4 separate regions of the Homo sapiens genome follow, and all the other regions are linked to region 4. The links come from fine-mapping of genetic effects on gene expression. A gene starts in region 4. Each other region holds a variant in brackets. All regions are shown on one strand. Distances are between the middles of the regions.

Region 1 (4,163 bases), 670 kb after region 4:
AACAGAGGAGCCAGCCTACTTACCACCAGCAGAGCTACCCAGAGGGCCAGAGCTGCACGTGCTGAGCAAGGGGTCAGACAGGCGGCTGCCCAGGGCACTGGGCGAGGTTGGCGTGGAGGCAGGGGAGCAGGGGAGTGATGGGATACCCCGCTCGGCCAGGATAGTGGAGCCTGTGAAAGGGGAGGGAGGGAAGGACACACTAGCTGCCTGCCCAGGCCAAACTGGAGAAAGCTCTGTCCCTCACAGTGGGTTCCCAGGCCTGACCACACAGCCCAGCCACAGGGCCAAGAGCGGGATTTTGCAGGCTGGCGCGGGGATCATTTGATATTACCGCCGTGGAGTATAGCTAATCAGCTAAAGACTTTGACCCCAGACAGCACCCAGCCTGGCCTCTGTTCTCACCTATGAACTGGAGGGTCATATCCTGCTTTCTTCTTGTTAAAACAGCAGCTCCAAACTAGGCCCCTGCCTGGCACCTACCTCCGCCCCTCCCCATGTATGCTTTCTGCAAAGCTTCCTGGGCCGGAGCATGTATATTACCATCTCCCCTGCCCCGCAACCTCACCCTCCTGTTCGGAGCCCTGAGCTCTTCACCACTGTCCCCAGATATCACCCACCTTTTCTGCATGGCACCTCTGCAGTGCCTTCACTTTTTCCCACCTTGTTCTGATCATAGATTCTCTCCTCCCCTCCTTCCTCCTTCCGTCACTCACTTCCTCTCCTTTTTTTTTTTTTTTTTTTCAGACGGAGTCTCGCTGTCGCCAGGCTGGAGTGCAGTGGCACGACCTCGGCTCACTACAATCTCCACATCCCAGGTTCAAGAGATTCTCCTGCCTCAGCCTCCTGAGTAGTTGGGATCATAGGCACATGCCACCACACCCAGCTAATTTTTTAATATTTTTAATAGAGACGGGGTTTCACCATGTTGGCCAAGATGGTCTCCATCTCCTCACCTCGTGATCTGCCAGCCTCGGCTCCCAAAGTGCTGGGATTGCTGGGGTGAGCCGCTGCGCCCGGCCTTCCTCTCCTTTTTAACAATCCTCGCCTCCCTCTTTCCCTCCTTCCTTCTCTCCTCCCTTCAACAAATCCTTACCAAGGACCTACCAGGCATCAGGCCCCGTGCAGACAGAAAGCTAGAGACAGCCCCTGACTTCAAAGAGCTGGCTGTCCAGGGAGCCTCTGACAGCTGTCCTCAAACTCCTTCCTCTGGGCCGCCCTGACTACCCCCAGACCACATTACTCCCTCAAGTACACACACACATGCACTACAGACATACAACTACACAACCACAAAGGCTGGGGTAATATTTGTTCTGTGCCCAGGACTCCAGTTTTGTTTCTCCAGTGAAACCATGAGCTTTCTTTTTTTTTTTTTTTTGAGACGGAGTCTTGCTCTGTCGCCCAGGCTGGAGTGCAGTGGCGCAATCTCAGCTCACTGCAAGCTCCACCTCCCGGGTTCACACCATTCTCCTACCTCAGCCTCCTGAGTAGCTGGGACTACAGGCGCCTGCCACCAGGCCCAGCTAATTTTTTTTGTATTTTTAGTAGAAACGGGGTTTCATCATGTTAACCAGGGTGGTCTCGATCTCCTGACCTTGTGATCCACCCGCCTCAGCCTCCCAAAGTGCTGAGATTACAGGTGTGAGCCGCCGCGCCCAGCCCATGAGCTTTCTTAGAACAGGAAATAGTATTCACCTGTGACTCTCCTACAAATCCTAACATAATGCCCTGCACACACCTAAGTGCCCAATGAGATCTTTTTTATCTGTAGTTATTCTAATTCATTTAGTTGTGTTATTATTTCTAAGAATATTCAATAGATGCCCACAGGGTTTCTCTTACTGTGTTAATATTTTTCCAAGTTAATTATCATCTCCTTCTTTCAGGAATTCACAACTCCTATTTACTTTTCTTGCCTTGTTGCATTGGCCAGAATTTTCAGAACAACATCTGTAAGCCATCTCTATTATATTCCTGACTTTCATGAGAATATTTCTGATGTTTCACCAATAAGTATGGAACTGGCTGTATGTTTTGTGATACACATGAGTGAAGGAAATAACCTTCTATTTTTAGTATACTTAGGCTAGCCACAAAGCCAAGCATTCCTCTATAAGGTTAATAATGACCCTTCATACATTGCCACTGGTTAGTTATTCTTTTGAAGTCAGTCAGGATCTTCAAACACCAATTTGCTGGTTGTGATGCCCAATTTTCCAAACAGATCAGGAGCACTTTGTTGAATGTATATTGAATTCTGGGTGGTTCTTCTTCAACACCCACCTTGGCCTATCCTCCTCTTGGGAGAGAGAAATCTGGATTTTTTTAAGCCTCCCCTTTGCTCCAGTCTAGTAAACCTCTTTGGGCAACAGAAGCCTTACTGGAAAGCTGCTTAGCTATTATTAGATGGTGCTGAGGGAAGAAAGTACCTTACTCTTATGTAATTTCCTTGCCCTGAGGAGTAGTATATCCTGGTCAATGAAATCAGCTTGACTATTTTTTATTTTTTATTTTTTTGCATCCCA[G/C]CCTAATTTCTTTTTATTCCATCTTGAATTCTCACCCAAGCCTGATTCATCTTGCCTGCTTGCTTGATTTTTCTCTTTCTCTTTCTTTCTCTCTCTCTCTTTCTTTTCTTGAGATGGAATCTCACTGTTGCCCAAGCTGGAATGCAGTGCCACTATCTCAGGTCACTGCAGCCTCTGCCTCCCAGGTTCAAGTGATTCTCCTGCCTCAACCTCCCGAGTAGCTGGGCTTACAGGCGTGCACCACCACACCCAGCTAAATTTTTTTGTATTTTAGTAGAAATGGGGATTTGCCACATTGGCCAGGCTGGTCTTGAACTGCTGGCCTCAAGCAATACATCTGCCTCGGCCTCTCTAAGTGCTGGGATTACAGATGTGAGCCACCGCACCCAGGCTTTTCATTTCCTTTTTATTTATGTTTCACTCCATCTTCATTTGGTCTCTTTGCAGAGGTGGAAGTCCCCAATGTTTTTTATATGATTTCTCATGCTCTCACAAGCCAACAGCATTACATGCATTAACATATGTGTATTCAGTTACTCACATGTGCCTATACACAGTACGCCAATCTCATAGAGTAACTACCTCATGCTCACTCATCTACACACATTATCTTATCTATCAAGCCTCCTGGGCTGAGGTCTAGGCTAGGGGCTGTGAGGCCCAGGGGTCTCCAAACTTGGGTAAGCATACTTACTAAAGAAAAACAATTCAGATGTCCAGAACCTGTCCAAGGTCTACCGAATTAAAATCTCTGGAGGGGGGGTCCAAGAATCTGCACTTTAATAGGTCCTCCAGGTAAATCTAACGAAACCAGCTCAGTCTCACAGAGCTGGTTCAAAGACCGGCACTTGGAAAGCATGAATACCTGCTCACTCTGGGGTACAAAGGTACCAGGAGACACTTTGTGAAAAGATTTCCGGTCAAATTAGTATGGAAAAACTCTACACCAAAACCACCATCACCGTCTCCTTAATCAAAGTGCATATTAAAGGCTCTGAGAAGTCTTCCAATAAAGAATCTTCCTCCCTTCTTTTCTTAACTCAATGCACATCCCCCCAGTCCTTTCAAACCCTGTGCCCCCGAGAAAAGGCAGGCCCAGAACTCTGCAGCCCCACTTCCCCCAAGGCTGCCTGCTCAGGGATTCCCCCGAGTCCCCCAACCAGACACCACCCTGCACCACCTGACTACTGACATTCCAACCTTTTTTTCTCATTTGGACTCACAAACTTCCTTAAAGGTGAGGACCTTTATTTCCATTTTGGAGAAATGGTAACCGAGACTCAAAAAGTTAACTGCTGGGGGAAACCTTTTTTTTTTTTTTTTTTTGAGACGGAGTCTCACTCTGTCGCCCAGGCTGGAGTGCAGTGGCACGATCTTGGCTCACTGCAAGCTCCGCCTCCTGGGCTCAGCCATTCTCCTGCCTCAGCCTCCCGAGTAGCTGGGACTACAGGCGCCCACCACCATGCCCCGCTAATTGTTTGTATTTTTAGTAGAGACGGGGTTTCACCGTGTTAGCCAGGATGGTCTTGATCTCCTGACCTCATGATTCGCCCGCCTCGGCCTCCCAAAATGCTGAGATTACAGGCGTGAGCCACCGCACCTGGCCTTTTCCTCTCATTTTTGAGTGGTCAGTGGGTT
Region 2 (4,163 bases), 110 kb after region 4:
ATGGGGCAAATATCCAAACTACAGCATTATACACCCCTGGGTAATAAAACTACAAAGAAACACAATATATAATAAAAAGTCAAGATAGTGTTTAGTACTGGGGTTGAGATTTTGATGAGGACTCCTGGAAGAAGCAACTGCAGTCGTAAAGTTCTGTTTCTTGCGATAAGTGGTGCTAACAAGAGTGTTTGCCTTTATAATAACCCATTAAATTATATATTCATGTTATGTATTTTTTGTATATGTGATTTACCTTACAATGAAATTATGAAAAAGGTAAAATAACTGAAGTTATTTCAATAAGCTGTATTCCCTTTTTCTTTAAAATGTTTCTCTTACATTTTAAAGTTTATGTGTATGTCATAAACTTGCTTGATTAGTGCCAAGTCTATAGAAAATATTGTCTCAGGTGGAAGTAATTCCACCAACCTTTTTCTTAAATATTTCTACAGGAGGAACTGAAAATAAGTAACCTTGCATTTTCTTTATTGTTGGATGAAGAATTAAGCTCTAGAGAAAAATTCCTGAACAACTACCTTACAAGGAAACAGCACGAGAAAGTAAGAATAGTGTCTGAAATCTGAATACAAGCATTTTCTGATAGACATGCCCCTCATTTAGCAAGAGCTCACGTGTCTAGACCCTTCCTTCCTTCCTTGCACCATTCCTACATAACCATGTGCATCCCTTGGCTCCCTGTCTGGAACTTTGCTCCAGGGCCAGGTGAAAGTAACCATTCCAATCTGTTAATAAAGTTAGGTGATTCTGCATCTGCAATCATTTAGCCAAAAGAACTGTGTAGCTTTCATATGACATGGTTTATAAAATGAGGCCATATAGCTTCATGGTTGAAAGCACTGGCTGTGGGACCTAGGACAAGGCATATAACCTTTTAAGCTATTTGCAAGCTCTTACCTAGGGAATGTTTTTCTCTCTGGACACGCTAAGATTTACTAAGATGTAAGCAATGGGCTTGCGTATAGAATGAAAAACTGCCGTATTATGAAAAACTCTAAATATGAGCTTGGATAGATATGGTTCATTAAAAAGACAATGAATACAAAATGTTTATCACATAATGTTTCTACAAATGTCAGCTTTTGTTAGTAGTATTAGTAAAGAGCATTTATGAATGTGTGACTTAAAAATGACATGAACTTTTTTCTAAGAGCCTATTAAACAGCATATGCAAAGCTTCTTCTAAATACAACTTTACATATAGCAACCCTGCAGCATACTAGATTTCTTTCACAGATGAGGATACCATCTCAGAGAGTCTGGGTAGCATGCCTAAGTCAGCCACTAGTGTGTAATAGAGCAGCAGCTGGAACTGTGGGAATAAGTGAAGAACATCCAAATGCAAATGAGCAGATGCTGTTTATTCAGAGCTTGGCACAGCAAGGGACTCATCCACCATCAGTTACTTTTGGCAGACTCAAAGGCAGGAAAGGAGTAGGAAAGCTTTATAGTGCAAAGAAGAGAGGGCTTCAGATGCAACATCATTGGAAGTTGTTGGCATGAGGAAGCTAGAGGCAAACCAATTAGAAGCGGGACAACTCATTTTACTGGTTTAGGGAACATATTTGGCTTTCTCTGGATGGTCCTAGGTTGGAAATGGGGACAAAATTATAGAAGCTGGTGGTAATGATCAAGCCCTGAAAGTTTGAGGCCAATCCTTAAAAAGGCTGTGGTTTAGTTTCCCAGCTGATGATTGTAGAGGTTGTGGGTCAGAATTCTGTTGTTACATATGGTCTGGCCCTTGTTTGCATGTATATCCAGTCTCTCAGAACCCAGGTCCATGTGATTCCGAAGCCTGTGCACTTTCATCCTCCACACTGACTTACCAAGAATGCAGTGTGCTCCATAGACACTCACACACTCATACACAGAGTTGGCTGTACTTAGAAACAGGTGATTGGGTGTTCTTTCAAAGTCCCCAATTGGTGTATTTTCTTCTATAAATCTTA[T/A]CTTCATGAATAAATACTTCACAGACATATTTCTCTTGTACTAGGAAATTCCTTGCTCTTTTTAGTATCCCCAATATTTTTGTTTATGCTGGAAAGTCTCCAGTTTCAATCAACTATTCCTGATGCTGTTATAGAGCCAGACTTCAGAAGCTGTTCGGAAATCTAGAGAAGACCTGGATGTGTGCAAGGAGCACTATGACAACTTACTGGCAGAAGACAAAGTGAGAGTTGTTGTCTTACCCACTCAACAATGCAGTAGAGTTGTTGCTGCCTGGATTGGAGGAAGGTTAAAGGGGATATAATATAATTTTCTCACAGATTTTTCTCCCACTTAATTCTCAGCTATGGGTGAACTTCATTCTATGCCATTGTATATTTTTGAAAATCCATGTGTAAAATGAATTTTTATAAGCTTCTCTGGTTTAAGCTTTCTGTTATACAAAATACAGGGAAATCATCTAGCCTTTAAGGCTTTTCAAACTTTAGGTTGCAGACCCCATTACTTGGCCATGAAATCAATTTAGTAGGTTATGACCAGCAGTTTTATAATGGAAAAGAATAGGATAGAATAGCATAAAGAAGACAGATGGAACAGAATGGAATAGAAAAGAAAAGAATAGAGTAACATTCATGTTTTTTGGGTAAATATATTTTGGGACACTTCTTTGGGAAACTTCTGGATGATTTCTAAGACCTGTTATATGAAATAATATTTTTAATACACTTAGATGCTTCTTATCAAAACAAATCTTTGAGACATCATTGCACAGAGAATGGTTAATGTCTAACAACTTTGTAAATCAAGGTTTCATGCATTTTTAAAACCAAAGTGCTACCACCTGTATTTTGAAGAGTATTGTCAACAAATAAAAGGTTTCCAAACCAAGTTGCAGTCCTCAAATGTCATGTTTGTCCTTAGGTTATGGATCGCAGCTTTAAAAAGGAATTTTCTGAAATTCCTGGTCATCAAGTGGATATACTCTACAAACTTTTTAAACGCCGACCAAGGTTTGTTTCTCCTTCACTATTGTGTTTCTGAGAAAAAAGTTTGCAAATAAAGAGGAGTGTTACTAGATTTCAGCTTTTTTCTCCCAATTAAATGGAATTATTCAGTGTAATATCTTTTAGGTGGAGATGTTTAAGGGTTTTGATCCTAATTCAGTATTTTTTGAGATTATGTCTATATCTTAAGGTAGAGAATAATGATTTATTTTCATTATTTAAAAATAGTTAAGGATCTGTGTAAGCACGGTACTATTGTAGATTCTGCTTTGTACATTAAGGAAGTTCCTCTTACATCATAGATGGCACACAGATTTAAAAACAGTTTTTTCTAAAGTGCGTTCAAACAAACACAAGTTCCCTGATGTATAAATCGGAACTACTTGTAATAGGCTTCCAGGACTAACTAAGTTTGGGGAAAATACTGGGTTAAAAAAAGGAAGTTAAGCAGCTTTTCTTTTACTGCAGAATGTATTATTGGCCTTTGGATCTCCAAGTGTAAGAAACAGAGTAAGCAGCGTTTTCCAAACTTATTTGACCACAAATTGCTTTTCCTCAGAGTATCTCATGTGCTTGTGCCTAAAGTTTGAAAGATGCCAGTATAAATGGTAGAAAATAACCATTTGAAAAGAGTTCTAAGAAAGTATCACTGATTTCCACCATTATAAATGCAGATTTCCAGTTTTCAATCAAATGTAATCTAGAAATCAAGGAGTTTGTCACAAAGATGTAGTCAGCTAGTTTGTGTTTGAGATACAAACTCTGACAGGTTATAGGCAACCTAGGGAATTTAACCTAGAACATGCCTCTTGTTTTGGTTTTCCTTTTTTTTTGAGACGGAGTCTCTGTCTGTCACCCAGGCTGGAGTGCAGTGGCACGATCTCTGCTCACTGCAACCTCCGCCTCCCGGGTTCAAGCGTTTCTCCTGCCTCAGCCTGCCAAGTAGCTGGGACTACAGGCACATGCCACCACGCCCAGCTAATTTTTGTATTTTTAGTAGAGACGGAGTTTCACCATGTTGAGCAGGATGATCTCGATCTCCTGACCTCGTGATCCACCCATCTCAACCTCCCAAAGTGTTGGGATTATAGGTGTGAGCCATCTCGCCCGGCGGTTTTCCTATTTTTAAAAGAGTGAGTGATAATTAGCCCAATTACATACCTTCTCCTTGTGGAAAAAGAAGTGAGACCTCCC
Region 3 (4,163 bases), 190 kb after region 4:
ATGCCACAAATGTTCCCCCCAGTTGCACAGGGACTCAGGAAAGAACTCTGGACTTAACAGAAACGTCTGTGGATTCTTTCACAGGGACAGAATTGGATGATGTTAAGCGTTTGCTCAAGGGGAGTCGATCGGCAAGTGTGAGCCCCACCCGGAATTCCTCCAACACACTCCCCATCCCCAAGAAAGGCACTGTGGAGACCAAAATTGTGACAGCGAGCTCCCAGTCGGGTAAGTCTGACAGCCCAGGCTGCCGAGGAGTGTGAGAAACAAACTTACCCATCCAAACCCAAAGAGTGGACTCAGAGACCCAGAGAACAGTGAAAGTGAGACTTGAAATTGGGGCCCACCAAATCTCATTCCAGCTAGCACAGGGCTTTCCCTAATAGCAACCTGTTTTAGGGCATAGATATTTGTTTGCTTGTGACAGCTGCCTTTGGTTTCCTAAATTCCCACAATGTAAGACTCAGCAGGCATTGAATTTTATGGTTTAGGGGGTAGAGGTTTTAGTTATGTTGATTATTAGATTGATTGGATATTCCCTACTTTCCACCCCTAGTACTGGGCCCTATCCAATACTCAGGTCTTCTTTTGTGTGTTAGGATTAATCCTAACCATATCCACCCCTAATGAAGGGGTTTGCTTATAGCTCTCTTCTAGGTTTTCCTTAGAGTTAGCTTTAAGTGTTCCTTAGGTGATTTATACACTTCCCATTTGCCCTTTTCCCTTCCTTCTTGGGTTTCTTTTACCAGTCCCTTGAGTGTAATGAGTTCACCCTCGTTTAGCTGTTCGTTGTCACGTTTCAGTGGTTAGGACCACTTGATAGGGACCTTGGCAGCTTGGGTGGGGCTTATCTTCTTTTCAAGTCTTAATTAGCACCGAGATGCCAGGCTGGAAGTGGTGAACTGTGAACTCAAGAGGCGGGGTTTGAGTTCGAAGTCCTTTTAAGCTAAAGGATGACAGGGTGGAGGATATGGCCAGTATATGATTTCTTAAAAACTGGTTTTTGGTTTCCATAGTAGGAAGATCAGTAGTCCTATCTAAATATGGGAGTCCATATCATAACTTGTAAGGGGACAGTCCAAAGTCTTTGCTTGGGGCTGTTCTAATCCTAAGGAGTGCTACTGGGAGACATTCGAGGCATTTTAGTTGTAAAGATTAGTTTAGTAATATGCTTTTTGAGAATTTGACTTATTCTTTCTACTTTTCCAGAGGAAGGGGGATGCCAAGGGGTATAGTAATCCCATTTAATGTGTAAACTTTCCATAATTCCCCTTAGCACCCTTGAGGTAAAGTGATACCCATTGTCCGAATTAATATTTTTTATCAAGACAAATCTAGGTATAATTTGTTTTAAGATTATTTTTACCACATTCCTGGCGGTGGCAGTTGGGAGGTGGAATTCCTCCACCCAGCCGGAGAGGTGGTTTACCATTACCAGTAGATACTTTAGTCTCCCTATTTTGGGCATTTCTGTAAAATCTACTTGAATGCTTTGAAATGGCCTTAACCCAGGAGGTCTTCCTCTGGTAGTCTGTTTTCTAACTACTTTTTTGTTTATTCTCTGGCAGGTTACACAACACCCACACACTTGTTTAGCAAGGGTATAGATCCCTATACACCCATAATTTTTTAGTATTGCATCACACATATCCTGGGGACCCCAGTGAATTCCTTTATGCAGTATGGACATCAGTTTTCTCATTATGGGTTTGCTTATCATTTCTCTCCCATCAGGGAGCACCCACCTCCCATCCTCAGTTTGAGTGGCCCCTATCTTGCCCAGCTCTTCCTCCTCCTTTTTAGAAAATTTGGGTTTTAATATCACCTTAGGGATCTGTGGGATTAGGCTAAACAATCTAACTTCTTCCTCCAGGGAAGCTTGCTTAGCAGCTTTATCTGCAAGCCTGTTCCCCACAGCTTCTATAGTTTTGCCTATGGCTATCTCTGCTAGAAGCAAGAGGCTTTTTAAAACTTGTTTGATCAGTTCCCCATGTACAAATTCTTTCTCCCTGCTATTTATTAGGCCCCGCTCTGTCCAGATCTTTTTAAAGGTGTGTACTATTCCACAGGCATATTTGGAATTAGTATATACAGTGCCTTCTTGGCCTTCTAGAAGCTTGAGGGCCTGGTTAAGAGCATGTAATTTACAGGTTTGGGCTGACCAATTATTGGATAATCTACCTTTTTCACATAAGGATTATTTGTTTCCATTAATGACAGCATAGCCATTGTGTTTTTTACCATTTATTACTTGGGATGACCCATTTACAAACAGTCTCATCCCATTATGTAATGGGGTGGTTTAACTTTAGTTTGATATTAAGGTCTGGTTTAACTTTAGTTTGACATTCTATGATATCCA[G/AACAG]TTATGATTTGATGCCTCTTTATTCTCCTCTCCTTTTCATAAGAAGCTGGCTGGATTCAAGAAAATACATGTTGTCAAGACTAAATTATCTTTTTGTAATAATATGGCTTCATATTTTAAAATCTGGGAATTAGTTTACCATCTCCCAACTCTTTGATTTAATATATTCCTGACCTGATGTGGGGTGCTCACTACCAGGGCCCTGCCGAAGATCAACTTCAGACTCCCCTCCGCCAGCAGGGCCATGGCAGCCACTGCCCACCTGCACCTTTGTCTCCCCATCTCCCGTCTTACATGGCCTCTCTCTCTTTCCCTGTCTCTCTCTCTTCCTCTTGTACTCTTTTTTCCTTTTACATTATGTCTCTCCCCAGTTTCACCTTCTGTGTCTTTGATCTCTGTCTTTTCCCGTCTCTTTCTCTTTCGCTTATTTTCTTTTTTCTTTTTTTTTAATCTCTCTGTCTCTGTCATCCCTGTTTTCTCTTTCCCTTACACTCAGTTTCTTCTTCTTTCTCTGGGCGCCAGCGCACTCGCCATGTTAACAGCTTACTTACATTAGCTCTCTCACACTGTCCACCTTTATCTCGGCTGTTTGCTTCGGCTCTGCAGCTCCTGCCGCCCCCACACCTGCAGCTGCACAGCCGGCTCCCTTGCCTTCAGGGTCAGCAGCTTAACTCTTTCTCTCTCTGAGCACCAGCGTGAGCCATGCCGTGGCTCCCCTCTGTCCGTCTGCAAGATGGACAGCTTTGGCTTTCTCTCTTTCTCTTTTTCCAATTCGTTTCTTACTTTTCGCAAAAACCTTCTAATTCCTTAATTGGCTTTTTATTCCATCCATCAACTTTTTTGCAGTTTCTTAGTAATATCAGGCCAGCTTTTAGTCATAAAATTAACCTTTAAAAGGCCTTGCCCTACTAGGTCCTCTGGATGTAATCCTGATTTTTTTTTTTTTTTTTTTTTTTTATTCCTGAGCCTCTGCAGAAATGCAGAGGGAGTCTCCTCTTTTACTTGTTGAAGCTCGAATGCTTTTGAGACATTCTGTGTCCTTGAAGTGGACTCTTTAATCCCTTTAATTATTCGTTCCCTTAGGTCCTGCATTTGGGCCCGATCTTTGGGGTTATTGTTATTCCATCTGGGATTTGCATTTAGGAATTTCTGCTCAGCTGGCGGGACTCCTTGCCCGAGAGGATGCTGTCTTTCCCAAATGGTCATGGCTGCCCTTTTAATTATTCCCCTCTCTTCCTCAATAAACAGAATAGTCATGATTGACATCATCTTAGCCCAAGTACAAAAATTGGGTCCTAAAAATTGATCTAGCTGCTTTGCTACACCGAGGAGATTTTCCAAGAGCGGCCTTATTTCCTATTTAAAATTCCTAACCTTAGTACTTGTTAGAGGCACACTTACATATCCAACTTCTCCCTGTCCCATAGGGACTTCTCTAAGAGGGTACATATTAGACATCTGCTGTTTAGAAGGAATAGGGAAATTCTCAATGTCCTTCTTACATTGTTCTAATTCTCTCCTCAAGTTTGGATAAGGATTTACGGGAGCATTGGGTTTAGCTTCTTTATGATCCCCAGATTCCTCTTCCTCCAGCCTTCCTGTTACTCCCTGATCTCCCTGTCCTCTACTTTGTGAGATGTAAAGTGGAGGCAAGCGTGTTATGGGATTCCAGAGCTTTTTATTGGGTGAGGGCTTTTTACTATGCTCTTTTTTTTCCTCTTGAAGCGGGAGCATGGGGGTTAATTCACTAATTTAACAAAGAGCATAACCCGTCTCCTCTTGTGAGGATGGGGTTTTATTA
Region 4 (4,163 bases):
GCTGAATAAATGTTCAATAGAACAGATTACTAAAAAAAAAATAGACACCAATACCTTTTGTTTTCTATTTTCCCATCCACAGCTGTAGCTAGAACAGCATTTCATTTGAGGATTTAAATACATAATCCCCCATGTAAACAAAGGAACATCCAATTTGAACATGAGCACAGGTGTGCATGTAATTTAAAAGGTTCATGTGCTGACAATACTGGACACTTAAGTACCAGCCATTGCAAAAAAAAAAAAAATTATTTGGCTCCTTGCCAAAGAATTATCAACATTTTTGAACTATAAAACAAAAACTTTTGTTACTATGAAAACAAAAAGATCCTGGGCTTTTGTTATTTAAAAAAAAAAAAGTATGTCAGAACACACATGAATTTTGGTAAGCTGGCATTGTGAGCCAACAAGTCTACACACCTGCCACAGCAAGTTGGAAGATGCATCTTTTAGAGAAAACCATGCTTTGTTAAGTCATATCATGTGGTTAAAATCTAGTACTTTCCCAGTAAAAGCCTCCTCGGGCTCAAGCTTAAAACTGGTCTATTAATGTAGTAGACCTTTGTTGTTTGCACTGTCTGGAAGCTGTTAACCACTCTCTTCCTCCCCTCTACCCCACACTATTAGGGGAAGATAGTTTCAATGTTCCTTTGGAAAACTGCCCCAGTAAATAAGGTAGGGTTGTTTTCAAACTAAAGGTCCAGGGTGAAGCACATAACCCAGGACTTTGTGCCTCTGAATCCAGCTGTGTCATGCTCCTGGACTTTTCAAATAAATGAGTACCAAAAAATGTCTTTTTTCAATTTTGGTTACATTAGATTTCTCTTAGTACAATAAAAGAGTTCTATCACAGCAAATATGACAGTGTTTTTGAGAAACATTATGAAATAGTAAGTACTCTATGTGTTCAGAATCATAATCTCATCCAAATGAGATGCATTTCTTAGTGAAGTAATGACAAATCCCCTTCAAATGTATTTTTTAAATGCATTTTACCTTTCTTTTAGGGAAAATAATTGCCTACCCCTAAAGATTATCCCCTTAGAAGACTAAAATTAGTTCACAAACACTAAGCACACAGACAGAAAATTCCTTAAGAATAGGGGGTTTGTTTTAAACTTCCACAGAACCTTCCACACCAAAGGTATCTAATAAATGTCTAATCAACAGACATCCAAAGGTCATGGGAAGGGAAGTGGTTCCAATGGATACTTGGTGTCAGAGAAAAGTCAAGTGACTGTTGCACATATCCTGTGGATAGCCCGTAAGTCAAAAACTATGCTAGTTTCAAAACAGGCTCTGCAGAAGGATGAGCTAGACAGACACTTCCCTCTATTTGACTCAACCAACAGCCCAATCCACAGGAATATGTGCAGTAAACTCAGCACTACCCTAGGAGGGTCAGGGTCTAAACTCTGCTGTACTGGGGTAAATTACTATTCTAGGAGGGAACAATACATTCAGAATAACAACTAACAGTTAAGCTGGAATAAGAACGGGAAATCACAATAGGGCGAAAGCGAAAGGACTCTGGACCAGGAATTCGTGACCTACCAAAGCTAAAAGAGCTGCTGCCGGTTATTACCGGGCAAATCACTAACATCACTGGAGCCTCAGCTTTTCTAATCCATTAAATGGTTGGTTAATCTAAATGAGGTGTCCTAGACCGTTGGAATCTGTGGCCTATTTTTCCTAGGGGAATGGCCTATAACTTGCTATTTTCCAAAGGGCCGAGAATAGTTTAATGTGCAGTAAAGGACGCTGGTGGGAGGGGGGTAGAAGGGGGCTGAGACCCCACCCCACCCCGCCGCCTGCAGCAGGCTCCCGGACGGCTCGGGGAGCGTCCCCCGCCTGGGTGCCCACCTGATTCCCTTGGCCTTCAGGACTAGACGCGTCCTCTCAGCAAACGGGCAGAACCTCATGCTGTAGATGCGGATCGAGCCCTCCGGGACCGGCCCCGGGGGCGCGCTTCCTGCCGGGGAGAAGCGAAGGCGATTACGGCCCAGAGAGGTGTCGAGACCCCCCGTATCCCACCGCCCCCGCGTCCCACTGCAGCTCCGACCCGTTCCCCGCCGGTGGGGCGCTCCCGGGCGGCTGGGCTCCCGGAGCAGCCTCGAACATGCCGCCGGGGGTCGCCGAGATCACCCCCTCTTCGCGGCGGGCAGGCCTCACCCTTCCCCAAGCTCCTGGCTGACTCCCCGGACATCGTGGCGCAGCGCAGGCCGAGCTCCTCTGGGGTTTGCAGGGGATTCAGGAAGTAGGTGGCGCGTCCTTCCCGCCCTCCTTCCCTCCCCCGCTTCCTCCTTAGCTCAAAAGTGCCTGCCCCCGGCGGCCGCCAGCTCCACCCGTTGTGCCTTCCCGGCTTTATGGGATAGCCCTTAAAACATCTTAAGGGGCTGTGTCAAAGCATCTCGCTGGCCAAGGGCTGCACCCACGGGGAGATACACAAAAGTTATAAATGCTCAGTCATCCCTCCGCCCCCGAACGAAGGGGTCACCACTCCGCACTCCACGGGGCTCCACGTCTGACCCTGACCCTGACCTCCCTCCCGTGACACTGACCTCGAAGCACCACCCGCTCCGTCCCAAGGCTTCACGACTTCAGAGCCTGTGGCCCGACCTCATGGCTCACTCACCGGTCCAGAGCGTTCTCTCCAAAGGCTCCTGTTCAGCTTGTGAAGGGAAAATAAAAATCTCTTGACTCCAAACTCACTATGCCAAAGGGAAGAGTCAAGCTTGGAAACTGAGTCAGGCAACACTGCCTCCCATTTTGTTGCTAAATAGCTACAAAGATCAAAGGCCACACACCTCCCCAAGGAAATTCCTTGTTGGCCCGCAAGATCTTTACTCTAAAACAGATCAGTTGAATTTCATCTTGGCAATGTAAACTAACAGCTTATCTTCCCAAGTATGGGACAAAGACAGGTCTAGGAGTCATCCTTCCTCTCGCTGGAGAAAAATGCAATTTGACCGCTTCCTCTACCCTATATTTAATCTTGTAAAAATGCAGATTCACCAAGCACTAGACGAATGCATAACTGACTATTCCTCTACGACCTCCTTTCACGAATGTAACATGCGCATTCAGTGAATGCTGATCAAAGGCCCCAAAGAATGCAACTACTCTCCCCTTTTATCTACCTTCCCTTTTTACTTTCCACTTTCCCCTACTGCCTGCTCTTTCCCTTTAAATATTGAAGTCCTCAAGCCCTCTTTGGAAAGAGCACAGATCACAGATGTTCCTGTGATTTTGTGTTCCTTTTTCTCAGATGTGTCCTCAACCTTGGCAAAATAAACCTCTAAAAGGATTGAGACTCACCTTGGTCATTTCCTTTGATTTACAAGCTCATCTATGCCTCGCTGCAGGGTTGCCCAGCCACCTGGACAGGCTTTTCCTTTTTCTGTCAGTACTAGCTTAACGTGACTACTGGGAGGGCCTCTGTCCCTACCGTCACCTGTAGGATACATCCTTTTCATTTTAACCCATAGGAGACAGCACAAACCTGGATATTATCAACCTCAGAATAATGGTGCTGCTTTCAAAACTCTCCCACTTATTAAACATTTGTGTTTTGGAGCCCTGGTAATATAACAGTACTCCCATTTTTCTAAGAGATAGAGGATGAGTTATTTTTTACATTATTTATTTCTCCCATCTTCTCTGTTTCCTCCTTTCTCCCTGTTCCCCACTTCCTACTTAGCTCTTTAGAAATGCAATTATCATCTTTTACCTTCCCTTCACCTGACACTCCCTACAGGGCAAGCTTATCTAACTGGGTGTTTACTTAAAAGCTCCAGAGCAGGACTCTCACCCCCCAGGAGACTGCCTCCAGAGATAACAGTCCATTTACATCCAAAAGTATGCCTGAGACAAGGCCACTTTACAAATGACTTCTGCCCATGATGGCACAACCCAGCAGATAAAGCACCAAAGTGAGTCATGCGAACCCCCACCCACTCGCTCCCTCCCCAGCATGCAGTTCATACCAACTGCCCCCTTTAAAAGCCCCTGCTTTCTGCCCCAGAAGCAAAGTGGTACCCTTAAGGCAGGAAGCCTGTTTTGCTCCCCCTAAGCTAGCTTTGGAATAAAAAATCACTTTCTTTATACCAGACTTTGCTCTTCTTATTAATAATTGGACTCTGAAAGCGGGAAGCAACTGAACC

Evidence for each region. PIP is the estimated chance that this variant, and not a neighbour inherited with it, causes the effect.
Region 1: its variant is the best candidate, but not a certain one, in a credible set for the expression of GSTO1 in tibial artery (GTEx, PIP 0.75).
Region 2: its variant is the best candidate, but not a certain one, in a credible set for the expression of GSTO1 in tibial artery (GTEx, PIP 0.55).
Region 3: its variant is the best candidate, but not a certain one, in a credible set for the expression of GSTO1 in tibial nerve (GTEx, PIP 0.57).

Annotation. Positions count from the first base shown.
Region 1 is chr10:103,585,521-103,589,683 of GRCh38, reverse strand. It overlaps NEURL1 (neuralized E3 ubiquitin protein ligase 1), which reads right to left. Exons shown (of 6, transcript NM_004210.5): 5 at 24-170. Among named protein-coding and RNA genes, the nearest start is that of NEURL1-AS1, 70 kb to the right of the region's middle. The variant G/C (reference allele first, on the strand shown) is at 2,526.
Region 2 is chr10:104,144,288-104,148,450 of GRCh38, reverse strand. It overlaps CFAP43 (cilia and flagella associated protein 43), which reads left to right. Exons shown (of 38, transcript NM_025145.7): 29 at 453-560; 30 at 2,102-2,188; 31 at 2,887-2,975. Among named protein-coding and RNA genes, the nearest start is that of SFR1, 24 kb to the right of the region's middle. RefSeq lists an enhancer at 1,129-1,660. The variant T/A (reference allele first, on the strand shown) is at 1,968.
Region 3 is chr10:104,066,491-104,070,653 of GRCh38, reverse strand. COL17A1 (collagen type XVII alpha 1 chain) reads left to right here. Exons shown (of 56, transcript NM_000494.4): 9 at 85-228. Among named protein-coding and RNA genes, the nearest start is that of COL17A1, 17 kb to the left of the region's middle. RefSeq lists enhancers at 2,406-3,060, 3,061-3,716. The variant G/AACAG (reference allele first, on the strand shown) is at 2,363.
Region 4 is chr10:104,252,972-104,257,134 of GRCh38, reverse strand. GSTO1 (glutathione S-transferase omega 1) reads right to left here and starts at 2,243. Exons shown (of 6, transcript NM_004832.3): 1 at 2,173-2,243; 2 at 1,864-1,972. The coding sequence starts at 2,206. The region is part of intron 1 of LOC124902497 (a long non-coding RNA gene); the gene reads left to right. RefSeq lists silencers at 1,297-1,346, 1,837-2,096 and enhancers at 2,167-2,226, 2,561-3,075.